Linked DNA regions of Homo sapiens. Changing the gene in region 2 together with the main gene of any one other region gives a genetic interaction. Each region holds a gene or a part of one and is shown on either strand. Other genes may lie near its edges.

What was found. A genetic interaction does not mean that the proteins touch.
Region 1: changes in EGFR (region 2) and ORC3 together harm fitness more than expected from each alone (negative genetic interaction), as found in Homo sapiens cells (one large-scale study listed by BioGRID).

The regions. Positions count from the first base shown.
Region 1 is NC_000006.12:87,592,649-87,597,875, reverse strand, and holds part of ORC3 (origin recognition complex subunit 3), read right to left. Parts: intron 3,526-5,227; exon of another isoform or gene 3,524-3,525; coding exon 3,469-3,523; intron 3,350-3,468; exon of another isoform or gene 3,263-3,349; intron 1-3,262. UniProt on the Homo sapiens protein: Component of the origin recognition complex (ORC) that binds origins of replication. DNA-binding is ATP-dependent. The specific DNA sequences that define origins of replication have not been identified yet.
Region 2 is NC_000007.14:55,206,241-55,211,880, reverse strand, and holds the end of EGFR (epidermal growth factor receptor isoform a precursor), read right to left. Parts: 3' UTR 253-5,640; downstream 1-252. UniProt on the Homo sapiens protein: Receptor tyrosine kinase binding ligands of the EGF family and activating several signaling cascades to convert extracellular cues into appropriate cellular responses.

The DNA of each region.
Region 1 (5,227 bases), on a different chromosome or scaffold from region 2:
CTGCAACATTAAAGAAATGTGTGGCCAGGCATGGTGACTCACGCCTGTAATCCCAGCACTTTGGGAGGCCAAGGTGGGAGGATCACTTGAACTCAGGAGTTCAGGACCAGCCTGGGCAACATAGTAAGATCCCATCTCTATTTTAAAAAAAAATTATATATATATGTGTGTGTGTGTGTGTGTGTGTGTGTGTGTATATATATATATCATTACTTAAAAAAAATCCTATTCTATATATTCAAGTTATCCATTTATTTCCTTAGTCAAACAGTGGCATAGTTCATTTTTTCAATTCAAAACTAGTACATGGGTATGCTTAATTCCATATCATAATTTTTCCACTGGAATTAATTTTCACAGTGCTGAATATGGAATGTATATACTCAATAACCCTGTGGGGAGCTTTTGAAAAATTCTAACACTTAGGCCCCACTCTTGAGATTCTAATTCAATTGATCCGGGTTAGGGTCTTAGCATTGGCACAGGTTGAGCATCTCTAATCCAAAAATCTGAAATCCTCCAGAATCTGAAACTTTTTGAGTACCAACATGATGCCACAAGTGGAAAATTCCATATCTCACCTCAAGTGACAGGTCGCAGTCAAAACACAGCCAAAACTTTGTTTCATGCACAATATTATTTAAAATATTATGTAAAATTCGTTTCAGGCTATGTGGTTAAGGTGTATATGAAACATGAATGAATTTTATTTTTAGACTTGGGTCTCATTCCCAAGATTATCTCATTATATACAGGTATATATTTCAAAATCTGAAAAAATTCCAATAACCAAAACACTTCTGGTCCCAAGATTTGGGATAAGGAACTCTCACCCTGCATTTTTTCAAAGTCCCACAAGTTGGAATTGAATAAGGTCACTAGATTGTATTAATATCAGTTTCTTAATTGTGACACTGTACTATAGTTATGTAAGATACTGCCACTGGGGATAACTGGTCGTAGGGTACTTACTGGTGGAAGAGTATTACCTGTAATTATATGTGCATCTACAATTATATTAAAATAAGACTTTTCAAAGTTCCCCAAATGATTCTAATGTGAAGCTATGATTGAGAACCGGTGCAATAAATACATTCTGATAGTAATACTGGATTTGATTGAAGAAGTCAAGTCTTCTTAATTTGATCACTAAACAGGTATCAGGATATAAATGAAAAAAGTGAAGACAGTATCTTTTTTTATTAATTGAATTTTATTGAGGTATAATTTACAAATAATTAAACACAACCATTTTAACAGTTTGACCCAGGTATATACTTACATAACCACTCTGTCAACAGAGAACATTTCCATCACTCCAGAAAGTTCCCTCTTGCCTTTTTGCAGTTAATTCCCCCTACTTCATCCCAGGAAACCACTGGGACTTTAACACAACCTGTGTTGTTTTTGCCTTAAAAAAAAAAAAACAACAAAAAAACAAACAGCCGAGCACAGTGACTCACACCTGTAATCCTAGCACTTTGGAAGGCTGAGGTGGGCAGATCACAAGGCCGGGAGTTCGAGATCAGCCTGGCCAACATAGTGAAACCCGATCTCTACTAAAAAATACAAAAATTAGCCAGGCATTGTGGCGCATGCCTGTAGTCCCAGCTACTCGGGAGACTGAGGCAGGAGAATCGCTTGAACCTGGGAGGCGGAGGTTGCAGTGAGCTGAGATCATGCTGAGAGCTAGACTCCGTCTCAAAAAAAAAAAACAAAAACAAACAAACAAATTAGGCTGGGCACAGTGGCTCACACCTGTAATCCCAGCACTTTGAGGTCTGAGGTGGGAGGATCACTTGAGCCCTGGAATTCAGGACCAACCTGGGCAACAAAGTGAGACCCTGTCTCTACAAAAAATTTTAAAAAATAATTAGCCAGGCGTCGTAGCGCATGCCTGTAGTCCCAGGTACTTGGGAGGCTGAGGTGGGAGGATCATTTAAGCCCAGGAGTTTTCAAGGCTGAAGTGAGCTATGATCAGGCCGCCGAACTGAAGCCTGGGTGACAGACTGAGACCCTGTCTCTAAAATAAATCAACAAACAAAACCAAAAGAAATGTCTTTCCTCTCTTACACACATGGGTATATGAGTGTGTGAGTATGCGTATGTCTGAGTGAGTGATAAAAATCCACTCCCTTAATATCATGAGTATGTGTGTCTATGAGTGATTAAAACTCAATAATTTAACAAATTTGTTTTATGAAATGAAGAGTGATTGAGAACTGTGTGGGACCCTGGTGCTTCCGAGAGATGATGGAGGGTGCAAACTGGTAGAAAGGATGTGAAGACTAAGAGAGGAAATCTGGGCCACTTGGAAATATGTAGCCATTGTGAGAGTAGAAAGTCTTCTGCTACTCATTCTCAGCTTTTTCCCTTCCCTCAGGCTAGTGAGAGATAGGAGTCTTGGAACACAAACTATAAGGCCAAGGTGGTAACAATCCATAATAACACAAATTTATTCACATGGTATTTATGATAGTCTTACAAAGCACTACATGTTAGCTCTTAGAGAGATAGAATGAGAATAGGGAGAAATCTTAGTGATAAGTGAGTATAGTTGCTCATTTTACAGATGAAGAGACTTAGGGAAAGGTTAAACAGCAGGGCCAAAGCCATAGAGCTGGTCAGGCTCAGGATCACACTCCAATTCCTTTACTTATAGTCCAGGTGATTCCATAACTTTGTGCTCTAGCAGGTAGAATTACTGTAAGAGATCCAAGACCTTGGGCTTTTTTCTCAGCATGTATTGATGTGCACAGCATTTATCCCTAAGTTAGAACATGCAGTATTCTAACACACATGTAGTTACTAAGCCCTAAGTTCTAAAATGCTCCATACAGATAGATGATTGCTTTAATTTATTTTGCCAAGTTTATTCATAAAATGGAATATCACATCAAAATTTTTAAGCATATTTAAGTCTCCCCATGAATATTGTATTTTAACTCAAAAATAATTTTTATACAATTTTCATTAGAAAATATATACAAATTTATAATCATTCTTTCTTAGGTTTTCCTTATGTTACCAATTATCATTTTATTTTCTAAATAACATTTCCCCCATCATTAGAAATCTGGGTTGCCAGTCAGCCTTTATTGTTTTGATTACTTCATCAAGGATCAAAATGTTTCTCTAGCAGAAACTCACTTTCATTTCTAAAGTTGTAGATAAAAAAACAATGGCAGAGAAGTAATCAAAAAGACAATCTCTTTTAAAGAATAGCAGCATATCCTTTGAAGGAAATTTGCTTCCAACTTACCTTTGGAAGGTGTAATTGGATTCTCTTTTCAATTAGAGCCCTGGGGTGTCCTCTTATCTCTTTGACCAATGCCTTGGAACATAAATGCTACATCAACATGGCAAGTAAGCCAAGGTTAGACAAGAGAATTACTAAATTCAATTAGGGTTAGTTCCTAATAGTTTAAGAAGGTAGGGAATAAAAAATTTAATATTCAGACACCTTACCTATTGGCAGAGAGATCTTTCTCTTTTTGGAGTTTGGCTTAAAAACAAAGCAACCCTATAAAAAGAAAGACGAAAAGCATAAAGTCAAAGTAGCCAAGGAGCAGAGAAATCTGATTAACCAAATATTTTATGGGTAAGCACTTTTTTAAAAAAAGATGTTAGGGGAGAGAACACATTTCTTTCAGGTTCTAAGAAATCACATCACTTCTCTCTGACCTATAGAAGGAAAATTCTAAAACAACAAGGGGGACTATCTACTCTCTCCCCTCCCTCCCATGAGATGCCCATTTTTGATTTTGCTCTTTGACACCTGATCTAAGAGGTAGACAAAGAAAATAAAAGCTGATTAAATTTAAGCCCAGAAAGGTTCCATTTTCATAAACTTAAAGGAATTAATACTACACATTAAAATGGGCTGGGCACAGTGGCTCATGCCTGTAATCCCAGCACTCTGGGAGGCCAAGGCGGGTGGATCACAAGGTCAGGAGTTTGAGACCAGCCTGGCCAACATGGTGAAATCCTGTCTCTACTAAAAATGCAAAAATTAGCCAGGCGTGTTGGTGTGAGCCTGTAATCCCAGCTACTCGGGAGGCTCAGACAGAAGAATCACTTGAACCCTGGAGATGGAGGCTGCAGTGGGCTGAGATCGTGCCATTGCACTCCAGCCTGGGCAACAAAGAGCGAAGCTCTGTCTCAAAAAATAAATAAATAAAAATGAAGATTAAAAAGGTTGAAAATAGTGATGTTCTCCCAACCCGAAACTTATTTAAACTCGAAGTATCTATAACCTTAGTAGTAAATAGATAATTGCAGCTGTTTCACTCTACATACTTCTCTTCATCTGATAAATGCCTACTCATTTATCCATTAAAGTTTGACTCAACACTCATCTCCTTCAGGAAACCTTTCACAATTCTCTAGCCAGAAATTCTCCTTTCCTCGAGATCTCTCAGTACTTGAACATCTTTATTTTGCATTGTTTTAAGTCACTTTAATTGTATATCGTAGTTGTTTATGGGTGTGTCTCCCTGAGTAGACTGTGAGTGCCTTCAAGCACAAACTGTATTTTATTTATAATTGTTTCTCCAATGTTTGGAATAGTGCTAACATACATATTAGGCAATCAGAATATGGAATGAATAAATGCTTGCCAAATAACTGTCCTGGTAATTTCCCAGCTATGTTTAGTTTCATATTATTGTTTGACCAGTGGTAGATCACCCCCAAGTTAGTGGTCCTAGTCTATTCTACCAATTCTAAAGTCATACATGATGGATAGCTTATAGTTTTTTTTTGTTTGTTTGTTTGTTTTTTTGAGACAGAGTCTCGCTCTGTCGTCCAGGCTGGAGTGCAATGGTGCGATCCTGGCTCACTGCAACCTTTGCCTCCCGGGTTCAAGCCATTCTCCTGCCTCAGCCTCCTGAGTAGCTGGGATGACAGGTGCCCACCACCATGCCTGGCTAATTTATTGTATTTTTAGTAGAGACGGGGTTTCACTATGTTGGCCAGGCTGGTCTCGCACTCCTGATCTCGTGATCCATCCGCCTCGGCCTCCCAAAGTGCTGGGATTAGAGGCATGAGCCACTGCACCCGGCCTGATGGATAACTTCTTAAATATTTCGATTTCTATGGAAAATAAAAGACAGAATGAAAGAACGATACCTAGGAAAAGTTGTCTCAGGATAGTGTTAAAGACCGCTGTGCAACTATAAAGTAGCCATTTGGATTACATGTTCCCATTTAAGAACTGTGCCTTAGA
Region 2 (5,640 bases):
CCCAGACACAGGAGGAAGCCTCCGAGCTGGCTTGGATTTTTTTTCCATTAAAAAGTTCTCTGGTTCCTGAGGTGCGATGGTGATGGTGGGAGAGGCTGGTTAGCGACAGGGGGGGCTCTCTGAACTTTCTGCTTAGTTTTGCTGTGAACCTAAAACTGCTCTAAAAATAATTTATTGATTTTTTAAAAAAGTTATCAGGAAAGAACACCTACAGTTGGTTAGATATGATTAATAACTAGTACCAACATGGCATTGTTAACAAAGAATACATTATTATTATTATAAGGTACTCAGGAGTAAAGAACAATGAATAATATACATCTAATTTTTTAATACTCAATGCACAATCAACATTTCTGATCAACAGTATAAACCATATAAAAGAGAATTCTGCTTTTCATTTGTACAAATACTGCTTTCATCATTGCAAAACTTTCAAGGTTAAAACGTACCATATGTTGAAGCTATAAAGCTATTGCTTGAATGTTTCTAAAACGAAGTTATTGCTGTCTGTTGTTAATCGGTTACATTGTCACCTCTAATACCAGTCATCAAATCCATAGGATCTCTTAATTTCCAAGAGATTGTATTGTACAGCAAGATTATTTTTGTGGCCAAATCAGGTCATAGGATTCCTTTTTTTTTAAAGATAAGTAAATGCATCCAGAAATGTATGCACAGATTTAAGTTTTCCCCATAGTTTTATCTGCTAGGTGATAGGGTGGAGCTTCTTAGTGCTTCTGCTGGGAATTCAGATAGGACAGACTTGCAGCCTCAGAGGACACACTGCAGGTAGTGCAGAGAGACATGGAAGGAAAACACACTGCCTGCTACATAGTTTTTATCCCAGGTATAATTTGTGAGGAATGTATAACAAATGTTTCTTAAAGCATGAATCCTCTTCTTGAATTCTTGTTTTTATGAAAGCCATCCAACTACTTACTCAATCCTCTTGAAATCTGCCTTTTGTAATGTAACTGATAGGCCAGCGTTTTCTTTCACTGTGGGAAATAAAGGCTACTTGGTTGCTTTAGGGAGGGCAACAATGTCAGCTGCATAAGCAGCAAGAATATTATATTTTATTACTAGTCCACCCTTAATAAAGAGAGAAACCTTAGGAAATGGAAAGAGGTGTCTGTTTTATATTTCCTTTGCTTTTCAACCATTGTTTAGACACTCTCCCTTCTAGTGCTTGGAGAACCTTCATGGAAACTCTGTTCAGGTTCTTGACTCTCAGCGACAGATGTGGAGGTCTTTGTGTCTTAGCTCTCTAGGCCTGAGAATCACATACACCTGCAGAATTTGCCTCCAAGTCCATGTCCTTGTGGCTAATCCCTAGGCCAGTAGTTCTCAACTTTGGCCGCACATTGGAATGACCTCAGGAGCTTTAAAAACTACGAATGCTTGGGTTTCAGCCCCAGAGATTTGCGTTTAATCGGTCTGAGGTGTAGCTGGGCTTCAAGCTTTTAAAAGCTCCTCAGGTGATGTCACTGCAGCCAGGGCTGAATAACTTCTCTAGGGTGGCTGGGCCCAGGCTTGGTAAGACTGTTGGTGAACTAACCAAAGTGTGCTGAACATTATTAGGCTCTCCAGACATGTCTAGTTTATACTGGTAAATGCATATCAATTGTAAATATAAAAATAAAATTTGCATTGAAGTCACATTATATATATAAACCAACAAAGTGCTATGTTATTGCTTTTCTTACATGTACAGGGTTACACTGGCAGATGATGAGAGTATGGCATGCAACTGGATTTTTCTAGTAGTAACAACAGTGAGCCCTTTCCATTAACACTGCCCCAACAGAACCTGCCTCAGACCAAGCTAAATGTGCTTTCCATCATCTTTTAAAATTTCCTAAATATAAAAACGATGCTTCTCTTCTTCACCATGACAATGACCTAGCTTAGCTCCCCAATGAGGTTGTGCCTTTTTATAAGAGAGAGAAAGGGCTTTCCTCTTGCCTCAACTTAACCCTTTTAAACAAAGATTTCAGTTTCAAATTTTGATTCTATTGCAGTCTCTCTAAAGTAAACTGTGTTTGTTTTAGTAGAAAAATGAGTTTCTAAAAATATATTGTACAAAGTTCAGTGCTACATAAAGAGAACTATATCCCGCAACAAAGTTACAAAAATAGATTTACATTTAAAAATCCTGTCTGTGTCTTCAATAGTACAAAGCTGTACCCCTGGTATGGCAGGTGTGGCTGGTGAAAGAGGCAAGGATTTCTGTTCTGTAAGGTTTTACAGCCCCCAGGCAAGGAAATGTGAGCAGATCATTATGTTGCAATAAAAGTGTGTGCTTATCACAAGAAAGAAATGCAGAGTAGACATTGAGGGCAATTTCAACAGGTGTTGCCTACGTGGAATAGCAGCTCACTCACAAAGGAGGGAAGAGACTGGTTTCTATAACTTACTTAGAGAATGCAGAGGGTCCCAGGGCGTTTTCAAAGCTCAGGTGGGGGTATTTGCCCCTTTCCAGCTGAACTGCTGGTGAGGATGAATTGAACGCTTTTGAAATGAGCCAAGTCTCAGGCTTATCAGTGACTGCAGATTGTTCTCTCCACTGCACATGGGAATCTCTACCCTACCCAGCCTTTTATTCTACTCTGACGGGGGCTCTGGTACAGACCCACAGTCTTGTACAACTGAAGACCCTAGAAATAAGGGTTTCAACCCTGGTTGCCCATTAGAATCATGAAAGAGCCCCCGAGATTTGGGTTGAATTGGTCTGCAGAGACTCCAGGCCCCTTCTTTTGAAGCTCCACAGATGATTCTTTTCTGCCTGAGGGGAGGTGCTGAGTTCCCATCACCCACCAGCTTCATCCTACACAAGTGCAATCAGAGGCCTAGTGAGAGTGGCACTGGGGGGTGGCCCCCCAGCGAGTGCCAAGTAGATCCCACCAGGCCCTTCCTTTAGGCCAGAGGTTCTAGAAACTTTGATGAATGTTGCAATAACCAGGGGGTGCTCTGAAAAGGCCCTACGGCTGGGCTGCACCTGAGAAAATCAAGCCACAGTCTTTCTGGTTGGGACCAGAAGATTCCCAAGGGCAGCCGCCCTTGAGAACCAGTGCCTTTCCTGCTAAGCAATCCATAGTCCCCTTATGTCTGCAGTTGTGAGGCAGGGGTGGTAAGTCACAACATCAAGAACTTTCAGCAAACACCTAAGCTTTGGTGTCATCAGCTGGAGTGCAATAGGATGCATCCACAGTGCTCCCCCTTACAACCTGGACTCACAGCGAATATAGAGTTTAGAAGACTCATCCCTTCTCTGATCCCTCATGGGGTGACGGGCATGGTGTAATTAGAGGAGCTCCTTAGAGATGATGCAAGAAGATGCACGAAGGCTGGCGGCACCTATGAATGTGAGCTCTCAGCTCCTTACTTTCCTTCGACCTCTGTTTCCAAAGACCACATCTGAAGCTGGGGTCATGGGGTAAGGTCTTCCAGGAACTGACTGAGGAAGAAACAGCCAATGGACAGGCTTTCTGTAGGGTATTAAGGCCAGGCTATCAATCAGGAAGACCTTCAGGGATGGAGTCCAAGCTTTGAGTACTGACTGATCAGGGCTGTTAGGTGAAAATCATGGGACTTTGGGCAGCTCCTCTCCTGACCTGCCCATCACAGTCGCCAGATCCGTGAAGAGGCTAAGGGCTTTGCGGCTTCTACCAGACAGAACTGTGCCTCCCTGGACAGATGAAGTGAGAACTATTTTGGGAAGCACAATCTTAAAATTAATAGAATTTAGCAACTAAACTTTATGGTGGAAAATTAAAATATGAAGAAGAAAGCTAGAATAGCTTTTGCTCTTTTATTAAGTTACTGTTTCAAACTACAAAAATACTAGAATTTAATGCTACAATGTGACTCACTTACAACTGACCTGCCTCATCGATCATCTGCTTCTTGACACATAAGTGACAGCAGAATGTAGGTCCTTCTGTTTCCCAGTTCTGACTGAAATATTTCTGCATGTCCTGAGGTGAATGAATAATGAAAGTGGTTAACTGACAATATAAAATCTCAGATTCTTAGAAATGTTGTGTAGTCTTCTCACTAAGCATGTGCAGAGATGATAGCTCAAAATCCCCCTGGGGGCTGCAACTTTTAGGGAACTTGTGGGATGCTCCAAGCTCATCCCCTGGCTTAGAGGGAGCAGGTTGTTTAGGGTGACTGACCTCAGCCTTATGTGGACTTTAGCAGTGGAGGCCTCTGGCAGCTGTTTCCTCGGTCAGGGTGCCCCTGATGCACCTGCACTTTCCACCTCCCCGCTGACTGAGACCTGGTCATCCTCCTGTGAGGCCTCCCTTCCAGGTCTCCTCAGGCAGGACCCAACCTCCCTGCTCTGTGCTCTCACAGTGCCTGGCTGATGGGTCCTGTCTGGCATTTGTCACGTTGTTTTAAGGTTAGCATCTATGAGTCCATTTCCTTTGCTAAATTGTGAATTTCTTAGAATCAGGGACTATGTTTTATTTATCTTTGTATCTTTCATACCCATACCAGGCTAGTATAGATGCTTAGGGGTATTTGAGAGCATAATAGAGTGGAAATGAATATAGTTTTATTTTCATTGAGACAAAAATCAAATACTTTCTTAACAATGCTGTAGGGGCTCTGACTGATCTGGGAGTCAAAAATTACTTTAAAAGCAAAAGGAACATTTTGTATGTGTGTGTGACTGAACATAACTGTAGGCTGAAAATATTTTCTGAACCATTTCTTCCTTGATAAATTGGATGGGGTGGATATTGACTAGGAGAGTTTAAAACACTGTTTACAAAGGACTGCTGTTAACCAGTCAGGTTACAGGGCACACACAGATTAGGAAAAAAGGTGGGCTCCTAACTAGCTGAATCTTCCAATCTTCCAATTGTAGAGAAATTATTTTAGGAAGGAACTTTTTTCCTTCTAAAACATCTGCAAATGTTGTGAAAGCATTATCAATTTCAAACCCTAGTTTCATATTTACTACCTGAATTCCACACTACTCATAATGCTACTGTCATTCGCACCTGTAAAATGCCCTGTTGTGGCCAGAGCTGTAAGTGCTTGAATAGATGACTCAAGGCAGAGACACTTTTTGTGTGACAAAGCGTAAGGAGGGGGTTTGGGGGCAGCTGACCTGGAGGGAACATATACTCTTTGAGTAAAAAGCTTTTGAAGTGAAGTAAAAGGAGAAAACTATCTTCCATAAGTAACACAAACTAATTTTGGGGGGTTGGGGTGATGGCTAAAGGAGATTTCAGAGCAGCTTCATTTTTGTAGTCTTCTGATCTATGCCCCAAAGGACCTGATGCATTTCATCTGAGCCTCAAATTAGGAGATACGTTTTTGCGAGAACAAAAGCGGTGCTATCCTTAGGTATTCCACATTCTCAGCTGTGGGCTATTGGTCCAAATGCTGATGAATCCAATGTGGGCTGGAATCCGAGTTATTATTTGATGTGTCATCCTCTCTTGCTGATTTCATGACAGCAAGACAGGGGCAGCATACTGAGTTTCAAAACAATGGAATGGAAGACAAACAAGTCAGTCTAACGCTCATGACTGGAAACCACTGGTCCATCAGTGGGGAGTAAGTACCGTGGGGACATTTTTACAAAAGTAAGTCTAAGGAAGAATTCCATCCCCTCCGTTT